Regions from separate parts of the Homo sapiens genome. Here region 2 is linked to region 1. The links come from fine-mapping of genetic effects on gene expression. A gene starts in region 1. The other region holds a variant in brackets. All regions are shown on one strand. Distances are between the middles of the regions. Region 1 holds the start of ARL4A (ARF like GTPase 4A). Region 2 has its middle 28 kb from the start of ARL4A.

The links. PIP is the estimated chance that this variant, and not a neighbour inherited with it, causes the effect.
Region 2: its variant is the best candidate, but not a certain one, in a credible set for the expression of ARL4A in whole blood (INTERVAL, PIP 0.54).

What each region holds. Positions count from the first base shown.
Region 1 is chr7:12,681,249-12,694,189 of GRCh38, forward strand. ARL4A (ARF like GTPase 4A) reads left to right here and starts at 6,385. Exons shown (of 2, transcript NM_005738.5): 1 at 6,385-6,480; 2 at 6,918-9,710. The coding sequence starts at 7,007. The coding sequence ends at 7,609. It also overlaps the pseudogene LOC100505995. RefSeq lists silencers at 5,420-5,699, 5,900-5,949 and an enhancer at 5,894-6,430.
Region 2 is chr7:12,709,092-12,722,032 of GRCh38, forward strand. No RefSeq gene overlaps it. Among named protein-coding and RNA genes, the nearest start is that of ARL4A, 28 kb to the left of the region's middle. RefSeq lists an enhancer at 6,503-7,170. The variant A/AT (reference allele first, on the strand shown) is at 5,892.

The DNA of each region.
Region 1 (12,941 bases):
AATTAGGACTCATTTGTTCTGATGTGTCCCCCTATTGAGGCCCTGTTGGACTGGATGTTCTGTCAATCATGCCAGTGTAACCAAGTAGTTTAGCTTCAAAATGCATATTGAAACTTTTTTCCTTTCTTGCTTTTAGCCTTGAAACATACTTTAAAACTCTGTCTCCGGCCCTTCACACCAGACACTCCCTTGCCCTGCTAGCTTATCTAATTATGTGCTTACTTAGAAGTTCAAGGGGCCAAAGTTTTTGTTGTTGTTGTTGTTGTTGTTTGTTTTGAGACAGTCTCACTCTGTTGCCCAGGCTGGAGTATAGTGGCACGGTTTCAACTCACTGCAGCCTCCACCTCCAGAGTTCAAGGGATTCTCCTGCGTCAGCCTCTTAAGTAGCTGGGATTGTAGATGCCCACCACCTCGCCTGGCTAATTTTTGTATTTTTAGTAGAGGCAGGGTTTCACCATGTTGGCCAGGCTGGTCTCGAACTCCTGACCTCAAATGATCTGTCCGCCTTGGCCTCCCAAAGTGCTGTAATTACAGGCGTGAGCCACAAGCCCTGGCCCCAGGGCCTAATCTTGAGACAAACTAGACACAAAGACCCAGTTGTGAAATTCCAGAGATTACCTCAAGGTGGTTAATCTACAACCTGGCCATTGTTGAGACTCTGATGCCAGCCTGCACTCCAGGTAGACCATGACTCAAGACAGCCACCAGAACAAGACACATAGACCTTGTACCCAGCACTACTCCCACTTGCCTCCATTCCAGGTTCCCATTTTAAAACTCCTCTCCCCAGCCTAAAGCTTGAGATGGTTCGAGGCCTGAGCCCAGCCATTCTTCCATCTGTCAGCATTTGAAAAAAAGCTGCTTTCCTTTTACATCTCACGTCTCGTGCTTTGACTTCTGAGGCCCAGTGGTAAAAAGGCATCATGCCACACTACACAAGACTCACTTTCTGTGTCCCTATTTCTTATATTTGGATCTGCCTCTTGTAGTGTGGCATAATGCCTTTTTACCACTGGGCCTCCTGGCAGTTGGACCTGCACTCAGGTATGGATATGCATGTGAAGGCTTTTCCAGAGGAAGGGACAAACTGTCCTGTGACTTGAAACTAGGTGGAGCTAGGCCTTGAAGCTGTCCATAAAAGAAGTTCAGGAGGAGGGTTTAGACTTGTGGACTCCGGAAATTCTTATCTAGGACCCATTCCAAGTGAATTTTGGGTTGTACTTCCCTTCTGACATCCTCTTTCTAAAGTTTTGTCAAAAATTGTACCCTGGCTCTATGCTGCCATGGATCAAAATGAATTAACCGAAATGAGAACTCCCTAGAATACAGTGGGTAAGAGAAGAGACTCAGAGCCAGACACAGGAAACAAACTCCTGCTCCACTGCTTTTTAGCTGAAAAATCAGTTAGGAGGTAAATTAGTATAGGTGAGAGGTCACAAAAACCAGATCCAAGTAGTGGAAATGGGAATGGAAAGACATGAATTAAAGGGAGCTTGATAGCTAATCATAAGTGGGATATAGGATAATTTTTTAAATGGCCCTGAAATTTCCACTTGGAACTGCTGAATAAATTGCCGTCAACCAAAACAGGAACTAAAAGAGGAAGGCCATGTGTTTAGCAAGGATGCTAATAAAATGATACAAGGGAATCAATGTTTATATCCCTCTCAATAATTCTCTAAGAAATTCTCTATTATTCTCATAATAAATATGCATGGAAACAACTAAAGTGAGGTATCCTAAACATATACATCTATATCTATCTATACACATACACACACATACACAGGCTGTGGCAAAGGTGAGGAAGGACACGATTTCAGTATGTGCATGCTTAACTTATGTATATCATAAAAAATCAGGCTATGTAAGAGAAGAAGAATGCTACATGCATCTGATTTTTAATTTTTATTTTCATAGATTAAGGGGGTATAAGTGCAGTTGTGTTACATGGATATATTGTGTAGTGGTGAAGTCTGGGCATTTAGTGTCGCCATCACCCAAATAATGTACACTGTACCCAATAGGTAGTATTTCATTCCTCACCCTTCTCCCACCCTTTCACCTTTTGAAGTCACCAATGTCTATGATTCCACTCTACATGTCTATGTGCATCCATTGTTTAGCTTCTACTTAGAAGTCAGAACACAGGCATCAGATTTGATCTGGGTCCTGATATTTAATTCAAAAAGAGAATCAAAGTAAATTACTCAGTTGTAGTTATTTAAAAGGAGAAAACTTACCCATTTCTTATGATTAGTATTTCTTCAAAGTGTCTAATCATTAATTATCTGAAATACTTACTTAAAATACAGATCACTGGCTCCTCTCCTGATGATTCTGATTTGGGGGGGTCTGAAATAGGAGGAACCAGGAATCTATACATTTACAAGCATTAACAGGTGATTCTCATCATTAGCCAAGTTTGGAAAACCACAATTAAAGGTGAGGTTCGCAGAGGCCCTAGTGCCTCAGTACTTTTTCATGGTACCTCAGGCCAAAATAAATAGCCAACATTTCTATTTATGAAATTGATAGATCCAAACTTGATAGTTGTAGTTGTTAATATGGTCCAACAGATGTCACTGTGTTTCCCTCAAAAAGTTAAACTATCCCACAGAACCCCTAGGAATTCTGAGGCACCCCAGAGCACTATTTACAAGCTACAGGCCCTAAAGGGAATTTTTTTCTGGCATAGAATGTAAGTAAAAGCTCTGAATGGGCCTTCTATAAGATCAGGCAACAAAGTGAACCTTGTGTTCCACAAATTCCATTGCTTTTAATATCATTTGTTGCTGTTTTCATATGGTTTTTATATATAGAACAGGCACACCAAACATTTTTCTACAGAGGCAGAGAGCACATTTATTTTGTATGTGTGTGTTGTGGGGGGCATAGATGATCTTGATTGCATATTCTTTTCTTATCCATTCTCTTGCAGCCCTTTAAACTTGTAAAAACCATTCTTATCTCCTGAATTTGACCTACAGGCTGCAGTTTGCCAACCACTACTGTAGTTTTAAAACCTAGGGTATAACATTAAAGTGCAATTCAGTGAGGACGATTCTGCAAGATTGGAAGCCCTCAGTGTTTTTGTTTTCCTTTTTTCCCTTTTTGCTCCAGGGAAGACTGTGCAAGGAACACTGGAAGGACTTAGAGATTTCAAAACTACTGTAAACAGAGGGTGGCCACAGAATTTTCTTGCTCTAAATTCTTGACTTAAGGAGAATCTGCAAGTTATCCCAGTTTAATAAAGAATCCCTATTGAATTTCCAATAAAAGGAAATAGGTTATTGCACTAAGCCCTTTATCAATTATTAGCTGATTATGTGAATGGCTAATGAGATTTCACAATTATAACTAATCAGGCAATCCTTAGTTTATAATAGATTCATGTTTATAGAATATGCCATTTGATATTTCTAGCTCTTATTCCCAAAATTAGTGTGGCTGTCTTGAGATTATGCATTGTGCTCAGAACTTAGGTTTTTACGTCGTTTTTTGTTTTTGTTTTTGTTGTTTTTGAGACGGAGTTTCGCTCTTGTTGCCCAGGCTGGAGTGCAATGCCGCTATCTCGGCTCGGCAACCTCCGCCTCCCGGGCTCGAGCGATTCTCCTGCTTCAGTCTCCTGAGTAGCTGTGATTACAGGCGCCCGCCACCACGCCTGGCTAATTTTTTGTGTTTTTCGTAGAGATGGGGTTTCCCCACGTTGGCCAGGTTGGTCTCGACTTTTTAAAGAATCCGGTATGACAAGTATGCATGTTCCTGTGCTAGTCATAAAAGAAATAAATATCACTGGCAATAGCGGTCTTGAGAAAAACTAGGATATTTCTTGAGGAAACTCCAATCCATATTTAAAAAGAAAAAAAGCACACTTTTAAAAAAGTGTACCATATAGGTTCTTCCAAGTTACAGTCTTACAGCCTTCACCAAAAAGATGTTTGTCGATTAAAGCTTTCCTACAACTTCAAGTCATTACTTCTTTTGCAGGTTGTCATAAGCACCCTGAAATTACCGCTGAAAACATTTTATAAATTTAGTCATCCATAGAGACTCCAATATTCCACAAGGGCAGGGACAGTGTATTTTGCTCACCATTTTATCCCCAAGCACACAGAATTGTGTCTACTGCCTATTAGGTGTTCAATAAATATTTGTGAACTTATTGATCAAAGACAAAATTTAGTCAGAATCATCCAATGAAAAGCATTTTGCATTTGATGACTAGTAGACTTAGATGAACAGTTCCAGGACCACCACTAATTTTCCTTGGGTCATTAGAAACATCCCTTTGGGGCTGCGGAGAGAAAATCCAATCTGGCCGCTGCCCCACAGCCCCTTTCTGTTCTGCGCGTTTGCCTCGCCGTTCTGATGGAGGAGGAGGTGGAGGTGGAGGAGCAGCAGCGATTTTCTTAGCCATTTTCTTACCAACAGAGGCCAAAGGAGGCAGCAGTGGACTACACTGTGGGTTGTCTTTGCGAGGAAGTGGCATTGGGCAGAGATGCAGTTCAGCAAACTTATCATTGCAGCAATTTCGGAGCTGACTTTTCGACAGTGCAAGATCTAGAAATGTGTGCAAGACATGCGAAAACCACCACCATTAACACTGAAGATGTGAAGCTCTTAGCCAGAAGGAGTAATTCACCGCTAAAATACATTCAGACAAAAGTGAAGAGCTTGCGCAGATTAACCTAGAACGAAAGGCACAGAAGACAAAGAAGAGGATGGAAACAAAAATGCAAGGGAGCCAGCAGAGGCTGGAGTACAGGAAAGTTAAGAATTAAACTCTCCCGCTGCTTGGAAAATGCAGCTTTCTGCAGGTAGAGCCACCTAGTATGTATATGGCCACAAAGGGAATTTTGAAGGGATAAATAGAGATTAAAAAAAAAAAAAAGGCTAGATGGCTTTTTGTGTTGTATTTTCCAAGTCGTTAACTGCAAACGCTAGTTTTAAAGAGAACTGGACACTCAATCAAAATACTCCTGTCTCACTCCAGCACATACAAATGGTGTAGTTGAATGGTATATTGGAAATTATATCTATTGCAATTAAAATTGTGTGAGCAATTTGAAAGAAAAGAAAAAAAGAAACATCCCTTTCATCTTTCAGAGTGTATTTCCTTATGTGTCAAACTGGAATATTTCTATCTGTGGCCAGTTCCCCGGGATGCTGCTAGAAACACGTGAGACAGCGCGTTCATTTGCTCTACAAAAAGCGAATGAAGGCGCAGTTACCAGGCCAGTCAACCCAGGCTGTTTAAGGTCAACTACTGGGGGACTTCCACGTCACCTCGATATATACGTAACGCGTGTGTGCCGTAACCCGTGAACTATGGAATCCCTAACCGCGAATCACGTGGCTGCTGCCCCGCGGACGCCCTAGACGACGTGAGGGAAGGCGGTGCCGGGCGGGGCCTGTGCCAGGCTGGCGGGCCGCCGCAGACAGAGCTACCCGGAGCAACCGTTCAGGGGTGAGGCCGGAAGTCCCATCCGACCTCGCGGGCAGCCAGCGCTAGGCCGATTCGAACTCGACCTTGTTTTGGCGTTGCTAGGAGACGCGGCTCCTGCGCGCCCCCTACAGGCCGGCGCCCGGGCGGCGCGCGGGCAGGGGGCGGGGACTGTCGCGTGGAGCTGCCGGGCGAGCACCGTTAGGGCAGCCTGGCGCGCGGCGCCCGCCAGGCGCCCAGTCCTCTGCCATCGCCCACGCCTCCCTGGTGCCAGGGAACAGGTATCAGCGCGCCTCCCCAGCGGCTGGGAGAGACGCTGAATGAAGAAGAGGGAAGGACGGTTAGTCAGGTGAGCCGCGGCGGGGTGGGCGGCCGGGGCGGCCACGCCCTGCCGAGGGAGAAGAGCCGGTCGTGTGCGGAGGGACAGGGTGAAGGGATCCCACTTCGGGGAGGATGGGCTTATCCCGGCGGGCGCGCCAGGTGGGATCTCTAGCGCCTCAGGGGCCCGCGCGGCAACAGCCGGCACCCTCGGGCCCGCGGACAAAGGGTTAACGCGTTGGCAGTGACTGCGGGCCCCGGATGTGAGAGCCTTGGCTTGACGCCCTGGCTGCGCTGCAGGTGCGCCGGGCCGAACGGAGCCGGCAGCCTGGCGGCGACCTGACCGCCCGAGGCTCCCCTTCACCTGCAGCGGCTGCTCGGCTCCCTCTGGGAACGCCGCCTTTTCTAACTTAAGGGCAACAGGTGGTGCCGGTGGACCGAGAGAGAGCTCAGCTCCGCCGCGCTGGGAGCGGCAGTTACCCTCACCAATTAGGGAGCGGGGGCGGGAGTTGCATGGCTTCCCTGATGCGGGTGACCAATGGGATTTGGGATCATGAGTGGACCGGGAGGAGTGGGCGTGGTCGGAGTCTGAGTCCAAGGTTTCTCGTGCGGCAACTGCCAGAGCTGCTTGGAGAGCTAAGCTGGAAGGGTGCTTATCCCTGCGTAGAAACGCCTGCCAATGCTTTCTCATTTGGACCCAGACTCCAGATCGGGAGGTGAGAACGTTGTTATTTTGCAAGGGGTAGGAGGTAATAGTGATCTTGGGTATGCTGTTAAGCATGTGGAATTAGATTCCGAAGATAGGACTATCTGCTATGAGTTTTCTGCCAGATAGGCACTTTGTGGTTACGGCCACTTAGACCAGATACTGGTGACTGGGTTCTTTCCAGAATGAGGTCTTTGAGGTTTGGGGACCCAGGAGAAAAACGTACATATTACTGCAATTTAAGTAAACCAGATAATTTCAATCACTGTTATTCCATCGTTTGTCTTGGACTGTGTGTGTTTTCATGTACGTTTCATATCTCGTCTGGTTTGTTTAGCGCAGCAAGTTATAGTAAGTTCTTCGTGTTGTTTATTTTAGCAAAGTAGAGCAAACCTGTTTTAATGTATTATTTCGGGAGAATAACTTATTCCTTCTTCCGTCTCCCAGCAGTCTTATAGCTGGATCAGCTACCAAGAGAAGTTGTAAACCAAGAAGAGAAAAGCATTTCAATTTGGGACATTTATTTGCACCTGGAAATGGGGAATGGGCTGTCAGACCAGACTTCTATCCTGTCCAACCTGCCTTCATTTCAGTCTTTCCACATTGTTATTCTGGGTTTGGACTGTGCTGGAAAGACAACTGTCTTATACAGGCTGCAGTTCAATGAATTTGTAAATACCGTACCTACCAAAGGATTTAACACTGAGAAAATTAAGGTAACCTTGGGAAATTCTAAAACAGTCACTTTTCACTTCTGGGATGTAGGTGGTCAGGAGAAATTAAGGCCACTGTGGAAGTCATATACCAGATGCACAGATGGCATTGTATTTGTTGTGGACTCTGTTGATGTCGAAAGGATGGAAGAAGCCAAAACTGAACTTCACAAAATAACTAGGATATCAGAAAATCAGGGAGTCCCTGTACTTATAGTTGCTAACAAACAAGATTTGAGGAACTCATTGTCACTTTCAGAAATTGAGAAATTGTTAGCAATGGGTGAACTGAGCTCATCAACTCCTTGGCATTTGCAGCCTACCTGTGCAATCATAGGAGATGGCCTAAAGGAAGGACTTGAGAAACTACATGATATGATCATTAAAAGAAGAAAAATGTTGCGGCAACAGAAAAAGAAAAGATGAATATCAATACCTATTATATCTGTGTGGAGTAGGTTTTCTCTGGTCTGATTTTGACAAATAGAAGAGTGTCTACAGCGTGGTTTGCCTGTCTGCCCTCCTGGATGCTATTAAAGCTTTGTTTTGTTGAACAATCAGATGCCCAACTCTGTTGCCTTGTGGAAGATGAGTAAATGCAGTGCTTCTTAAAGTGGTCTCTTCTCCCTACCCCACAAATCTTTTGGTACTACCATTTGGGGAAGCCAAGCAAGGATAGTAAATTGACCAGAACACAGTTGTGGGAATTTGGTCTGAAGTTAGTGAAATAAAACTTTAAAGAGTGTCTGCCTAGTGTTTTGTGCTTACATCTTTCGGGGGGAAGCCTTTGCAAGAAAATTGCATACAAGGCTTTGTAACGATCAAGTGCTAATCGATGGAAATGTTAAGGTAGATTAACATATATGCAGTTATATTGATCACATTGGTCCAACCAGTCCTTTTTTGAAGTAAGGGACAAGGAGTAAGTATTTTCTTTTTTAAGTTTCTGCCAAATGATTTTTGACGCTTTCTGGAATCAAGTAATTTAATAGTATAGCTTAATTCTAGACAATGTTTAAGTTGGTCTACCTTTATTAAAAATAAGATATTTGGGGTATATTCAAGTGCATGGATTAGTTTTCCTGACAAAGCATGTTTTGGTGTGTAGTCTTACTTTTTAGAAATAGCTATGCATCGTTCTACACAGGTTTAAAACAACTTTTTTGGGGATTTAGGGCTATTATAGGAATAGTTTGTTGTCAGAAGCACTTTCACTTGAAGAACCTAAAATGATTGACTCATTCATAGTAAATATGGGCATGTAAACTAATAAATATGCACTGGATACATATATGGATTTATGAAGAAGGCGATTTAGTCAAGAGGATGTAATTAAAATATGTGGTCTCTAAAATATTCCAGTTACAAGATATTTGTTTTATTAATATTTGCTGGCTAAAAACAAATGTGGTTTTTATATATTTTTGTAGTGTGTTGAGAAGAGCAAAAGCTTTATAAATATACCTGATGCGCTGTAGAATGAAAATGTAAAAGATAACCTGTATGTGTTCCGAGCTTTAATTTTTTGTTTACAAATTGAACAGTGTTACATGGGCTGTCCAGTCCTGATTATAGAGAGGAAGAAATGGTAACAGTATGGCAGATAAGAATTACAATTATAGAAAATGAGGGGAAAATAACAAACCTGTTTTATGAAAATTCACTGGTGCTGTTTACATTGGAATAAAAAGCTCTATAAGGAGGAAAGGCCTTTATCTAATTCTTATCTACAGACACTTACTTCCAGTGACCATATTTTACTAAATCAGCTTATTTTTTATGTCTAAAGCAACAGCTGTTCTGAAAAATCACCAAAAGAAATGCACTTTGCTAGCAGGATTTGTTTTGGCTTTGGGTTTTGTTTTTTTGTTTTTTTTTTTTTTCAGTGGCATAACAGTTTTTGGAACCTTGATTCTTGTGTCACACAAAATGAATGAAGTAGCTTGATGTGGAGCCTTCATATGTTAAATATTCCTGCACTAGTGATGGTCACTTAGAATGTTTATAGAAATGTGGATAATAACTACCAATAAACTACTTGAGGCACTAGGAGAACAGTATTTGACTTTGAATTTTAATGTATTTCCACTTTTGCTGAAGCTTTTAATCAGATGTGTAAAAACAATTGACCAGCTAGGCTATTTAGTCCCATAGTAGTTCAGATCTGCTTAGATGTGACAGGCATTGAAGGCTGTTTTTTTTTTTTTCTCCCTTCACTGATACTGAAATCATGGTATCTGCTGCAAACATGAGTAGATCCATGATGGATTAATAAAGCTTGCTGAAAAAAAAAATCTGTGTATCAATTAGATTTACCAGTTTGCCTGTACTTTCTGTCTACCTACTATGTAAAATAGTGCTGTTTTTAAGTATTTCAAAAGCTTGTGTGTTGACCCTTTGTAGCCTAAGTACGTAAACAAATTAATGTTATCTAAGTTTTTCATATTTCATGGACAACAAAAGAGAAAATGGTATGAACACTGTACAAACTTTGATTTATAAAAGACAATTTCAGCTATAAAACCCATCCTAAGATTTTCTAGCTTGCTAAGTTCAAGTTCCCTACCGCCTATTCTAGTTATTAACACTGTAGTATAATGAGTCTTTAAATTCTGAAGAGTTTAGACTATGCTTTCATATCTAGTTTCTTCTTATGGCGCACCTTTTCTAGTGCATAGTTCTAAAATATTTTCTTGTATTTGAAGTTACTTGGTTTAATACAAAATATTAAGGACTGCTCAACTGAATCCAAGTTAATATCAAAGAACAAAGTGTAAGAAAAATAAAACCTTTTGATAGTTAAAGATAATTTTTAAAATGTGCAGAGTTCTTAAAATGGTTTATAAATGGTATTCTTAAACCATCAGAAGTTTACTAAGACTTAATCATGGAAAAATGAACTAAATCTTTATAGGGAGACAAAAAAATGAAGTTATTAATGTAAATATATATATAATATATAAGAATAATTACTGGTCTGTAAATGAGTGATGGTTTATCAACAGAGGGAAAGGCATAGACTTTGTTTGTACAAGGCATTTTTTTTTTTTTTTTGAGACAGAGTCTTGCTCTCTTGCCCAGGCTGTAGTGCGGTGGCACAATCTCAGCTTACTACAACCTCTGCCTCCTGTATTCAAGTGATTCTCCTGTCTTAGCTTCCCAAGCAGCTGAGATTACAGGCACACCACCATGCCCAGCTAATTTTTATTTTTAGTAGAGATGGGGTTTCGCCATGTTGGCCAGGCTGTTCTTGAACTCCTGACCTCAGGTGATCCACCCGCCTCAGCCTCCCAAAGTGCTGGGATTACAGAAAGTAGCCACCATGCCCAGCCTGTACAAGACATTTGATGCAAGGATTGTTCCATTAATAATTCATGGTGACCTTGAAGGAAATCTTTGGTTTTTCAAGATTCTATTTAATACAACAATTTCCTCTGTAATGTAAACAATGATTTCATCAGCGATAATAAAGATGCAAAAAAAGTTTTATCAAACTTTATATGATGTAAAAACTCAGCATTCAGCTGATGCAATTGAGAATCTTGAGTACACCATCATTTGAAGCTGGAATTTTACCTTTAAGGTTTAAATTTGGCGGAACATTCTGGAAATGTAAAATCATAATGTTAATATTAAAATCTATGAAGATCAGAAGTAATAGTCTCAACAAACCATAGCCAGAGTATGTATTCAATTCTGTGCATGCACATTAAAAATATGGGAATACCTGTACAGGAAGCTAGTTTAGGAGGATGTTAAATGTACTGGCTAAAAACATGAGCTTTGGAGTCAGATCAGTGTTCAAATCCTGGCTCTCCCGTTATTACACATGAACCTTTAGCAAATTCCTTGAAACTTATGATGAGAATGCCCTCCTGGTTAAATGAAGACTGTTTCATAGAATTTTGAGAGTGTTGAAATAACATGTACAAACTTTCACATATTGCCAAGCATTTGATAAAAACTGACCTACTATTGTTAACCAGTAGGAATCAATATGTTTATTATTTCATCTGGGGCAATTTACTTGCAGCCTTAGTTTCTTAATTTGTAAAGTGTGGGTTATATATATCTACCACTGGGGTATAACTGATTAAAAGGATTAAATCAAGCAATGATATTTAGCAGAGTAACTGACACTTTAGTAAGCATTCAATTGATAGTTATTAATAGCCAGAATACCTTATGATCAACGTATTTAAAGAAAATACTTGTTTTGGCAGGGGAATATAACATAGTGAGCTCATACATGTCACAAAATGGCAACTTGGTGGAACTTAGTGAAAGTCTAAATATGCTGAACTCCCTTGAAATATGGATCATTTCAAGGGATCATATGGTACTTAGGTTTCTAAAGTACCAATTTATTGTAACACAATATTATCTTACCTTTCCCTGTAAGAGATAAAATTTAATTTAAAATCTCGGTTATTTTCTGGTGTAGGCATATATCAAAATACAATACCTCACTTTTCAGACATTAAAATTTGAAACTATATATTATGGTTCTTCAAAATGCCTCAAGATTGTTATCTATAATTCACAAATTTGATCGAATGATAAGATCAAATTTGCAGTATCTGTGGGCACATCTGGTTGATGATGGTGGTTGTGTTTGTGGGTGATTATGTGTGCTGTGTTATTTTCCAGTTACTTTCAGTCTTTGGTCTTGTTTTATGTCTCCTGTTTATGTTGCACTGAAGTGGAGATTACCTGTATTAGTGGTTGAAGAGAGATGTTGAAGTTGATTCATTTCAGTGAAGGTCTACCTTTAGATAAAATCTTAACTTTTTGTTATGACAGATTTCAATCTTATACAGAAGTAGAATAATATAACAAACACCCAAGTATCTGTCATCTAGTTTCATTAATTATCAACTCAGGGCCAATCTGGTTTCCTCTATACTTCCATTCACTTCCTTCCATGCCACCTTCCTTTTTCCTCCACTTCTAGATTATTTTGAAGTGAGTTCTGGAAATTACATTTCATTTATAAATAGTGGTATATGTGTCTAAAAGATAATCACTTAAAAAAATTTCACTCACATGTAAAAAAAATATGCTTCTTCAAAATAACCAAATATCCATCCAGTGTTTAGATTTCTATTATTATTATTATTTGAGACAGAGTCTTGCTCTTTTCACCCAAGCTGGAGTGCAATGGCATGATCTCAGTTAACTGCAACCTCAGTCTCCTGGGTTCATGCCATTCTCTTGCCTCAGTCTCCCCAGTATCTAGGATTACAGACACTTGCCACCATGCAGGGCTAATTTTTGTGTTTTTAGTAGATACGAGGTTTCACCATGTTGGCCAGGCTGGTCTCGAACTCCTAACCTCGTGAACCTCCCAACTCGGCCTCTCAAAGTGCTGGGATTACAGGCGTGAGAATACAGAAAATTAGCTGGGCGTGGTGGTGCATGCCTGGAGTCCCAGCTACTCGGGAGGCTGAGGCAGGAGAATTGCTTGAACCCAGAAGGCGGAGGTTGCAGTGAGCCAAAATTGCGCCATTGCCCTCTAGCCTGGGTGACAAGAGCGAAACTCCATTTCAAAAAATATATATATATTTGATATATTGATATATTTCTATCTCTTGCAGCTTATTATTCCCATTTATGCATAAATTGTCTCATCTTTAGAGAGAACTGAGTCTTTTTCACAGAACCCTAGTAGTTTTTGATGGCTTTTTTGATTTCTCATTTAACACAAAGTCCCTTAACCTGTACATTTCCTGTCCCAGATCTGTTTTTCTAGGATGCC
Region 2 (12,941 bases), 28 kb after region 1:
TGAAATCTAAATTAAAATTTAAAGGTAGATTTTTGCATGTTTTATATGTATAGAAGTAAGGTTCTGGGAATCGAGTTTATTCTTAGTTTTTTAAGATCATGAAAATAGGCCGGGCATGGTGGCTCACGCCTATAATCCTAGCACTTTGGGAGGCCAAGGCGGGTGGATCACTTGAGGTCAGAAGCTCGAGACCAGCCTGGCCAACATGGTAAAACCCTGTCTCTACTAAAAATACAAAAATTAGCCGGGCATGTTGGCACACGCCTGTAATCTCAGCTATTCAGGAGGGTAAGCCACGAGAACTGCTTGAACCCAGGAGGCAGAGGCTGCTGTGAGCCGAAATCGTGCCACTGCACTCCAGCCTTGGCAACACAGCAAGACTGTGTCAAAAAAAAAAAAAAATCTTGAAAATACATCCTAATATTTTGTCTTTATATATTCACACATTAACAAGCATTAGGCATACAAAGGTGAATGAGACAAAGTCTGCAGAGTTCAGATATGATAAAACAAGCAGACAGGTTAAAATATTAATAATTCCTATAATAGTAGAAGAGTTATCGTAGAGGAATACAAAGAGTTTCAGGAAGAAACTGAGCTACACTATAACACAGAAGAGACCAATAGATTTTGCATAAGCAGCAGAATGATTTCTCTTCATTAAGAGTAATGATCCACATGCTAAAGGTTAATTTCTAGTTGGTCTTCTGAATTCTGGCTTTTTCTTAACTCTTTTCTTCTGCTTTAGTCATCCTATAGAGGACCAGAAAAAATTAGACACAGTGAAATCTCTCTTCATGGTCAGGACAGTTACTGAGCAACAGGAAACACAACTATTCCTTATAGGCCTGGTGCCCTGTTTTTTTCCAGCCCTCAGGTTGGGAGCCTTTCGCATATTTTGCATATAACCTCTGACTTTGCAATGGAACGGAATTTTATTATATTTAATACCATATAATTTTTTTAGTACTGTATTTTTTGGTGGCTTTTAAAGCCACTATTCAAAATCTTTATATTACCCAATACTGCCAATATTCTAAAATTCTTGTGCAAATAAATTGTGTCATTATGTACAGTTAATGGACTTAGTAGGCAAATCAATTTTTATTTTTTTGGTTAAAGGGCTCTCCATTGTGTAAGTGCCTTTAAAACATGCTTATTAGTTAAGCATCTCAACAATGTGGAATGTGGGTTGGTTTTATCACTCTCCAATTAAAAGTTATTGCTCCATAACTTCCAAGAAAGGAAGTTAGGCACTTGGAGAAATTGGTTCAGTATTACATTGTGCAAATAGAATAAATAAATCCAGACTACTGATTCTCAACCTGTTTTCTGCCCTAAATCATCAGAGAGATAAATAGATTCTCTGTTGTAATAACTGAGTCTCAGATTCTAGCTCAGGAAGCCATTATGCCTTCTCAGTACTGGCCTTCTAAAACTTGATATGTTCAATTTTCAAAGAAAATCAATTTAGAAAGAAAAAATATGCTTTGAGATGATAAAAAAGGGAATAGTCATGTAATACAAAATCCACTAAAGCTACATTTCTCTATGCCTTATAGAAATGGACAATTATTTAAATATTAAAACATACCACTACCCCAATTATATATTTTATAATATAAAAATACTTCTTAAACTAAGTAGTAGTATTACTACTGAAATCATCTGTGTATATTTGATATGGGACATGGATAATGGGTCACATCTTGACAAGCATTTCAGGCCTATTGAAAGCTGGTTGTAACAGGATGCAGTTTGCATGAAGGGCTCATTATGATTATATCTTGGACACAGCACAGTAACACTTTTCTTTTCTTTTTTTTTTTTTTTTTGAGACAGAGTTTCGCTCTTGTCGCCCAGGCTGGAGTACCGTGGTATGATCCCGGCTCACTGCAACCTCTGCCTCCCGGGTTCAAGCAATTCTCCTGCCTCAGCCTTCCAAGTAGCTGGGATTACAGCCACCACGCCCAGCTAATTTTTGTATTTTTAGTAGAGGCTGGTTTTTGCCATGTTGGCCAGGCTGGTCTAGAACTCCTGACCGCAGGTGATCCACCTGCCTCGGCCTCCCACAGTGCTGGGATTACAGACGTCAGTCACCCGGCCCGGCCGACACTTTTCTTATGGCTTAGAAGTTCACAGAGTTCATAGGCAATTCATGTAAACTCAAAATGTTTGAATAGCCACACGAACGACTTCAGCTTGGCAGTCCCTTTGTCTCTAGGTTTCTGCTCGTTTCTATGTATCTAGAAATTCTGCCTCAGTCAACGTCTTGGACTCCTATCTTAGTGTAGGTAGAATTACTCATCATTACTTACTTTGAATCTAGATGGTTTCTTCACTGCTACTTTTAAAACCAGAGAGTCACCAAGTCAAGCACAACCACCTTGTTCATTCTCTTTTTTTTTTTTTTTTTTTGAGACAGAGTCTCGCTCTGTCACCCAGGCTGGAGTGCAGTGGCGCGATCTCGGCTCACTGCAAGCTCCGCCTCCCGGGTTCACGCCATTCTCCTGCCTCAGCCTCACGAGTAGCTGGGACTACAGGCGCCCGCCATCACGCCCGGCTAATTTTTTTTTTTGGAGGCGGAGTCTCGCTCTGTGGCCCAGGCGGGAGTGCAGCCGCGCGATCTCGGCTCACTGCAAGCTCCGCCTCACGGGTTCACGCCATGCTCCCGCCTCAGCCTCCCGAGTAGCTGGGACTACAGGCACCCGCCGCCACGCCCGGCTAATTTTTTTGTATATTTTTTAGTAGAGATGGGGTTTCACCGTGTTAGCCAGGATGGTCTCAATCTCCTGACCTCGTGATCTGCCCGTCTCGGCTTCCCAAAGTGCTGGGATTACAGGCGTGAGCCACCGCACCCGGCCTGTTCATTCTTTTAAGGCCTTCATTTTATTCCTGTTGGTTTCACTCACAACTGATAAAAAAGGTAAATGTCGTGTGAGTAGATAAAAATTTTTGAAAATTTGTTTTCAAAGTTGTTAAAGGAAAATACTCTTCTGAGTGTTTCCGTTCTGGATTGTTATTAGTAAGAAAAATATTTTCACAATGATACTATCAAGCATAAAATTCAGCAAATTATAATACTACCCTTATTACACAGTCTCAGGAAAAAAGGTAATAAGTATTATTTTGCATTTAGTGATAGAAATATTAAGGCTCACAATAACAATTGATTTTAAAATAATGATTAATTTTCCAGCTAAAGTTGTCATTTGACAAGCATTTACTGAAAGTACTTGAGAAAACGACAGCAGTAATTATAGCAGTAATAAAGCATAGCAGGCTAGACTTGCCTCTGTAATGCTCATGACTCTTGTGTAATGTAGATAATTAGCAAACTATCGAAACCACTGGAGGAACATCCTGTAACATGGTTAGGGAGACCTTTGTCCTCAGATTTGTTAGCTAATGACATTGTATAAGGATTTGGCAAGTAATTGAATTCTGTTGACTCTTAAATGTTTGGTAATGTACAGTTAAAACTATAAAGTCTGACAGAGGACATGGAGTTGGTACCTTTTCTTTTAAATTTTTCACAGCAATCTTCCAGTATGTTCTTATCTTCCTTGGAAAACCTAGTGTGTCTGTCTCCCAGCAGGTGAAATGAAATGACAATAGACTTTCATTTTGAAATTCAGCAATTTCGTAAGCTTATTGAAATTTTGTTTATCATTTGCTAAACTTTACTGGTATAAATATTACATGGCAGAAATAAAATTATAAGTTGTACATTAGTTTATTCATTTAAACTTTTGTAACACAAAGATCAAGAAACATAACATATTCTGTATTTTTGCCAACAAATATCTAAAATCATTATATTTTAAGTTACAATATCTGCAATCATAATAAATATAGGTCTTTTAAAATATAAAAATTTGAGGCATAAAAGTAATATGATATGTTCCAAGTCACAATGGCAGTAAATATAAATGCTAAACTGAAATATGAAAATCTAGTTGAGGATTTGCTTAGAGTAAGTTTGTAAAATTTGTTTTGAAGAAAGAAAAACAGATTGAAAGTATTTCTTTTTAATATGGTTTCAATTTAATTTAAAAACAATGCAACAAAGCCATTCTTATGTACACACATAGCCATTAAAGATGTTCCTAGCACAAAGATTCTCAAATGTTCCTAGTTCATTCCACCCTTAATATCTGGTAATTTTTTCATGGTGACTCTAGGAAAATAGGAATACCTCATTCGTTTATTAAGTAGTTAGGCCCAAATTTAGTAGTAGCAGTTTGTGTAGTGTCTGACTGATATTTCTGTGTTCCCCTAAAAATTTAAAAACACTATAACACTCCTGTGGGTTCACGGTATCATGATTGGGAACCACGGTCCTAGCAGCATTAAGAGTGTGTGTGTATTGTAGGGGAGAAAAAATAGTTTTACTCTACTTATTTTAGGTTCAGTGCTCGAGACCCCTGTATCAAACGAAAGACTAACAAGCAAAAAGCATACACATTTATTTAATATCAGTTTTCCGTGACAAGGGAACCTTCAGAAGGAAATGAAAACTCAATAAACAGTTTTAAACTTGAGTGTTTTTCCATAGTAGGTTTGATGAAGAGTGGAAAGTCATGGAGAAATATGATAGGACAAAGGGGATATGAGCTACATGTAATGAGCTGGGAGAAACTTGTCAAGGCTTATTTGTTCAGATTACTCTCTGTGACTCTGTGTCCTTGGAGATAAGGATATTCCTTTCCTCCAGGAATAGGGAAGCACCTCTCACATAAGGATCTTATGCACTGCTTCAAGGGAAGGTCAGAACATGCTTCCTAGGTTTTATGATCTGCTTCAGGGGAGAAGGGAGGCGGAACTTCACAGAGACCTTCCTGCTTATGCTATTTTCTCAAATTCCTTCAGCTTAAAATATTCAATATGCCAAGGTGCCATATTTTGGGGTAGTGTGTCCTGATGTGTGTGTCTCTCTCTCCTGAACTCTCTTATCTATCCATCCAGCCATCCTTCCACATCCACACACACACACACATATAAATCAGTCTCCTGCATTTTTATTTGCTAAGTAAAATTACATTCTGTTGTAATTTTCTCCTTGCACTTACCATGACTTGATATTTTCTTGTTTACTTAGTTGTTTATGTGTTTAATGTTTGTCTTCCTTCACTGGGCTATGGGGTCCAAGAGAGTAGGAAAGTTTTCTGCCTTGTTCCCCACTGTATTCCTAGAACCTAAAACACTGCCTAGTGTATACTACATATTCAGTACACACTGTTTGGGTGAATACACATCTTCCAAAGACAAATGTTCATTCTCAAGGACAGTACATTGTAGATAGAAATATTCTCTAACTCCCATATACTTTGTAAGAAACTTCACCTTTCTTGGAGTTCTATTATCACATAATTATAGACAGTGCAGTTTATCTTTTACTGCTCCCAATTGTGCCCTTCAGAACATTTAGAAAAGGAGTCATGTAATCTAGTTATACAAAGAAAAGCTTTGAAATAAATCGCTGTCCAACAAAAACCACACACACAAACACACATACACAAAACCCACTCTATTACATTTAGTAATCTTGGTGAAGGGAAGGGAAGTCATATATTTTACCAATTATAGGTATTTTAACCTTTTGTTTTCAAAACTATAATAAAAATATTCAATAGTGTATTGAATTTTAATTTGCAGGAGACTATCAACATATTAGGTTGCTTTGGGGTTAACTTTATAAATTTTTTTTCGCAAAAATCTCACAATAAAGCTTCTGCTAACTGTCCATGCATATTTTGAACTTTTTTGGAAATGTATTATATGTAATTTAATGAATTAAATTTTAAAAATGTGTTCTTAAGTTACTGGACTTTTTAGTAGTTTCAGGAAAGGTAAATCAATATAGTGTTTCTGGTTTATCCTAGTGAATG[A/AT]TTTTTTTTTCTGAATATGTGTTTCCTTGGAATTTAAGTTCCACAGATCATTGATATGTATAGTCTTTTTCACAAGAAGTTTACACATTTTTTTGGTGATGGTGGCTAAGTGGTCTTTAGGCAAAATGATCTGATGAAATTAAAATTGAGCAATTAGGAGGGGAATCTATTCAATATGGACTGATTATGAAAAATTCAGACCCCTTTTTCTTAATTTTCAGGGATCAGAGGGTTTTAAATTATATAAGTTTCTAAACATGTATTCTGTTTATTGAGATGAAGCCTAAATTGGTGGTGGCAGTGGGGGCTGTGTGTGAATAGAAACAGAAAAAGCCTACCATTGACGCCTTTGATAGATTTTAACTGTCCAATTAATTTGCGTACATGAAATGTGTAACATACCAATATTTTGCTCCCGGCACACAGATCTCCAGTGGACATCGACAATCAAAGCTTCTATGATTATTTCACAATATTCAGCAATCCACCCAATGCTAACTGGGATGTTTGATTTTGCAGCCTCTTTCAGAGCAGTTGCTAAAAGTGGCTCCACATCATAAGAGGGCTTCCCTCCCTCAATCCATGAGAGCAACTAGGTTTTGCATCAGTGAAAGGAAGAAAAAGCAGGAGTTTGGCAAGAGGCTGCAAAGAGACGGCACTGGGCTCCACTAGAGTTCCTTCCCACCGCGTTTCTCATCCTGTCTTCTGCCTAGTGGATATGTCTGCGTGGGCGTGCACACACATTGGCTGATGAAACCCCCTTCCTGTTGCACAGGGTCAGAACTAAGCGAGGTGGGTGTAGCTTTGGAGGGTTCTGAAATCTAAGAACCAGCTTCCTTTCCCACCGCTTTCCGCTGAGTCAGTTCACTGCAGAGTGCTCTGCAGGATCTGGAGGCCTTTGTGTTCAGATTATTTTACTAGCTACAAAAGCCACACCCTTGTGCTACACAAACAGAACACTTTGTCCTTCCAGGAGGTCCGTAGTTTGACCACAGTTCTGGGATTTCAAAGCTGCCTCACAGAGGCTTGCCTATTGTAATGTAAAGTGTTGAGCTGAGTGACTGTCCCTGTGTTATAATGCAGCTTCACAACTGCTGGTTTAATGGCTTACCGTGCTAGTGGGGCTTTGAACAACAGACCCTGTCATTTAAAACAGGCTCAGAAATCCATTTATTACCAAAAAAAATTTCAATGACAGTGAGAAAAAAATGGAATAATGCTTTTTGATTTAGAAAAAATCTATTCATTTATTTTTTATGTTTCATTTATTTATTTTAGACAGGGGGCCTCACTATGTTGCCCAGGCTGGCTCAAACTCCGGTCTCCAAACCATCCCCTTGCCTCAGCCTCCCAAGTAGCTGGAACCACAGGGGCGCATACACCTACCTACTCTTTCTTTTTTTTTAAAAACAAAACAAACCCCACACATCCATGTATAGCACACACACACGCACACACACACACACACATATATACGGTCAGTAAATGACCATTGGTGCACAGGCAGCTGTAGGAAAGAAGTGGTGTAGCGGAAGGACGGCTGAATTTGGACACTGAGCTTCAGTTGGCAGCGTAAGTCCCCTGCCTTCCAGCCTGGGAGCAATCATCTTCATGAGATTTTAATTGTATTCCTGTTCTCCTCAAACCCTGTTACAGACTCAAATGCATCTTACATAATTATTACATTTTGAATTCAAATAACTATAAATAACTGCCTTTTACTGAATGGTGATTACATGCACTATACTAAATGCTATGCTCATTTTCTCATTTTATTCTCAGCATCACTTTATGAAGTCACTTCTGTAATCCTCTTTTCACTAATGAGGGAAGAGAGGCTTAGAGATGTTAAATCTCTAGACATGGCCACACTGTTAATAATGGGGAGAACAGAGCTTCTAGCAAGATCTGGTAGTCTCCAGAGTTCAAGATTGCATCTGCTAAGAAACGTGGCCCATTAATTACAGCAGCCTTAGCATAAAGTAGGGCTTGGAGGCCAGTCTGGTCAAACTAGGGGGTCAGAAGACTTGCTTTGAAGTGCTGACTTAGGAAGCACGTTGTTTTTATTTAGATGGTGTAGGGGAAGTGCTGATAAATATTACCGGACAAGTAAGCACCTCTCTCCACTGGCCCAACAAGCTCTCTCCCGCATACGCTTGGCACAATCACCATTGCCTCTTTTATTGCTTTGCAACAGTTTTCATAAAATTATTTGGGGATCATTTTTGCTCCAGCTGTGCAGACCTCTTTTAAGTCTTCCTTTTTGCATTCAGACCCCCTCCCTGGAATGGACATTCATTATCATCCATCAAACAATATCCTAACTCTTCTTCAAAGTGACTCTCAGAAAACATTCATGATGACATTTCTTTTTAGAATCTCACACCTAGACTAATCTACACCTACCAATTTTAGTTATTACAAAAAACTGTTGTAAAACAACCTGCTCCTACCCTTTCGTTTGTTTGTTTTCTTCTTTTTCTTTTTGATATGGGGTCTCGCTTTGTCACCCCGTACCAGGCTGGAGTGCCATGGTACAATCATAGCTCACTGAAAACTCAAACTCTGTGGCTCAAGTGATCCTCCTGCCTCAGCCTTCCAAGTAACTAGATCTATAAGCACGCACCACCACACCTGGCTACCCAGCTAATATATGTGTGTGTATAGATGGATGTATCTTTTTTGTAAATATATTTTGTCTGTTTGTAGAGACAGCTGTATAGACAGCTAATATATGTGTGTGTATAGATGGATGTATCTTTTTTGTAAATATATTTTGTCTGTTTGTAGAGATAGCTGTATAGACAGCTAATATATGTGTGTGTATAGATGGATGTATCTTTTTTGTAAATATATTTTGTCTGTTTGTAGAGCCTGTTTGTAAAACAGGAAGGGGGGTTCATCAGCCAATGTGTGTGCACGTCCACACAGACACATCCACTAGGCATAAGACAGGATGTTTGTATTGCCCAGGGTGGTCTCAAAGTCCTGGCCTCAAGCAATCCTCCTGCCTTGGCCTCCCAAAATGCTGGGATTACAGGAATGAACCATTTGCCCAGCCGCTTTTTTCTTTTTCTCCCTTCCCTCCCTCCCTTCCTCCCTCCCTCCGTCCCTCTTTTCCTTTTTTCTTCCTTCCTTCTTCTTTTTTTTGAGACAGCGTCTGTCTCTGTCGCCTAGGCTGAAGTGTGCAGTTGCACAATCTCGGTTCACTGCAACCTCCACCTCCCAGGCACAACCAATCTTCCCACCTCAGCCTCCCAAGTAGCTGGAACTACAGGTGCAAGTCACCACATCCAGCTAATTTTTATATTTTTATAGAAATGGGGTTTGGCTGTTTTGCCCAAGCTGGTCTCAAACTCTTGGGCTCAAGCGATCCACCTGTCTTGGTCTCCCAAAGTTCTGGGATTACAGGCATGAGCCACTGCACCTGGCTTGAACCAATTTTTTTCTTAACTAAAGCCAATTGGGTCTGTCTGAGGCATTTAAAAAGTTTTTGACTTATATTTTTATTTTAGATATGAAACCTTAATATCAGTCAAAATCAGTATAAATAACATTCATTTGATAAGAAAAACTAAATACAAATAGTTCCAAGAAGTGTTAATATTTTTATCTTAATTGTTTTTGTAAGATTGAGCTGATTTGATCACTCCTTCTAGAAACACTACTCTCTCGGCTTCTGTGATATCACACTCAACTGATTTCCTTTCTACCTCTCTTGCTGTTCCTGCTTGTTCTCCTTTGCTAATTTTTACTTCTTTACTCAATTGCCAAATGCTACAGCATTTTGGATTTGCTTCAGTCTCTGTTCTCTATCCATTTTCTATTCATTGTTGACCTCATCCAACCCCATGAATTTAAAAACGATCTCTATGCTGATGAGTCTAAAATTTCTGTCTTCCATCCTGACATCTCCGCTGGTTTCAGATGTCTAATCCACATCTCCCTTTGTATGTTTAATTAAAATGGTTGTCACATGTATGGAAAAGGACTTTTAACTATCCTAGCCTTGTCCAACTAATTAAACCACTATTTACCTTGTTGTTCAAGCCATTTCATAGTCTTTTGTTTTTGTACCTCTCCATAGCTCTTCTCTTCTCTCTCTACAGACTAGCTTTTCTGCTGTGTATTACTTTCCTAGGGCTGGTGGCCAGGGCTGGATCCCAATTCCAGCCCCTGGCCTGGAAAAGTCACTGTGGATCAGGCTATGTCAGCTATAAATCCTGATCCTCCACAGGCAGAATAGGATAATAATCATGTTCTATGATCAGGTCTCAGGCATGGCTATGGGTGGGGCAATTTTCAGAGAAGGCAGTTGGTGATGCATGGGTTGCGCAGTCTTCCCAGTAATGTTTACTACACAGCCTTGCCAAATTTTCAGGAGTTTTTATATTCCTGACGCCCTTGACTTGCACATTCATGTAAAGAATCAGAAAGGAAAGATCATGCTTTTATCAGTCATGACTGTAGTCCAAAGACTTCTTTTTCTGCTCTATCATTTGTCTTTTTCTTACTGATTAAGAAATAACTTGGCCTATGTGATTTACCATCCCTCCTTGATATGAGACCTTTCTTCAAGATCAGTCCAGCAGGTTTTATTTTACTTTATTTTTTCCCTGAATGTGCCAGCCGAGTTTAGACAACGTGCACTTGCCAAGTAGGCCTTTTAGGGAGTAATCAAATATACTAGAAGCTATGATGACTAAGTACCCTCAAATTCAACCCGAGTCTGTTAAAATTGTCTCAACTGTAACCTTTATAATATGATCCTGAGTCACTGTGGGTGGTGGGGGTGGGGGTGGGGAGAGCACAATTATAGGAATTCCCCAAAACAGAAGAAATCTAGTGAGAGAAAAAAAAAAGAGCAAATGCTCCTAATTTTGACAATTCAATGAAAGTTTGAAGGATGATAAAGATTCACCTTTCCTTTGTATCTTCATCCATACTAAGCGCATCACAGAAGGAGAGCTGGTTTGTACAATCTATCTTTCTAAAAGAAAGTGGCATTCATGCTAAAAAATGAGGGGGAGAAGCCTCTAGCTGCATGAACTAGAATAATCTTTACTTATTTTTACTACTTTAGATTCTCAAGAGTAATTTTCAAACGGAAATCTACTGAGGGTTTTTTTTTTTTTTGGCTGGGATAGGCCTTCCTGTCTAGCAATGAAGCCATTTCCACTTAATAATTACAGGGTTGTTATGGAAATTCCCTTTTAAAAGTATTACTTTAAAAAATTGTGCAATGTTACCGCCTCCCCCCTCCCGCCGCAAGACCCTAAAAAAAACTTACATCACACCAAGAATAAATGATGTGATATTTTTTTCTGTAGGATTGCTGCCGTTAGAGAGAAATGAAAGCAATATTTTAGCAGCCTGTTGCTTCGCAGGATAAACATTGCCCTTATCATTCTTTGTGGATTGATTTTTGCCTGCTTGATGACAGAATTCTTCACATGACAGCTAAATTGTTTTGATTATTGAAAATATCACAAGACAAAATATGGTACAATCATAATTTCTTCCCTTTTCTCTCTTTAATCCAAATTATACATCAAAACCGAGAACATGGCCAGGCGTGGTGGCTCACGCCTGTAATCCTAACACTTTGGGAGGCTGAGGTGGGTGGATTGCCTGAGCTCAGGAGTTCAAGACCAGCCTGGGCAACACGGTAGTCCTCAACACCCCTCAACACAGTGAAACCCCATCTCTGCTAAACACGGTGAAACCCCATCTCTACTAAAATTAGTACAAAAAATTAGCCTGGGCGTGGCGGCATGCGCCTGTAGTCCCAGCTACTCAGGAGGCTAAGCAGGAGAATGGCTTGAACCTGGGAGGCGGAGGTCCCAGTGAACTGAGATCGCGCCATTGCACTCCAGCCTGGGTGACAGAGCTAGACTCTATCTCAAAAAAAGAAAAAAACAACCTGAGAAAAAACCAAGTCACTGGCAATGAGATTCACAAACTTATGAAAAGTAGGGAATAAAAAAACAGGATGAATCATAAAATATTTTTTGTATTAACTAGATAAAATCTATCCTTCTGAGTGATATTCCCACCTGTTTTCAAGCAAATGGATAAAAATCTCTGGTAAAATAATAGACTATGGAGAAGATTCAGGTAGGAGCTCCTGCTCTGCCTTCTTCCTTGTTTTTTCCAGTGACTATTGAAAAAAATGGGGAAGAAAAGAGACACTGATAAAGCTTCCAAATTTTCCCAGTAGGAGAGAATTATAAACTTTTCCTACAACTTTTTCGTTTTAGACAAAGAGTTTAGTGGTCAGATGAGTTTGGGGATCAATGTTGCTTACATACTCTGATTTCAGGCCTTAACTTCTTGTTAAGTTCCAGACCTATGTACCCAGCCACGTTTACAATGTGTCCTCCTGGAAGTTCTGCAGGCAATTCAAACTCCAAAACTTAACTCTCAGTGTTTGTTTCCATATCAGCTTCATTTCCTACCAGCTATCCCATTGCCCAAGTCAGAAAATTGGTATTCATGCCATGTGGCTCTCTCTCTGTCACCGCCCTCTCACCCTTGATCCAAGCCACCCAGTTCTTTTTACTTTGTGTCTTCCCCATCTCTCTGACATGCCTCCTTTTTCTCTTTCTCTCTCTCTCTCTTTTTTTTTTTTTTTTGAGATAGAGTCTTGCTCTGTCATCCAGGCTAGAGTACAGTGGTGTGATCTCGGCTCACTGCGACCTCCACCTATGGGGTACAAGGGATTCTCCTGCCTCAGCTTCTCAAGTAGCTGGAATTACAGGCGCTTACCACCATGCCTGGCTAATTTTTGTATTTTTAGTAGGGACAGGGTTTCGCCATGTTGGCCAGGTTGTTCTCAAACTCCTGACCTCAGGTGATACACCTGCCTTGGCCTCCCAAAGTGCTGGGATTACAGGTGTGAGCCACCGCGCCTGGTCTTTTTTTCTATTTTCAATCACTGGCGAGGCTCTCACTTGGTCTGCCTGTGATTACTCTCCTCCTTTTCCTCAAATTCATCCTTCACACTGTTGCCATAAATTTTCTATACAAATCCGCCCTAGACAGTCCCAT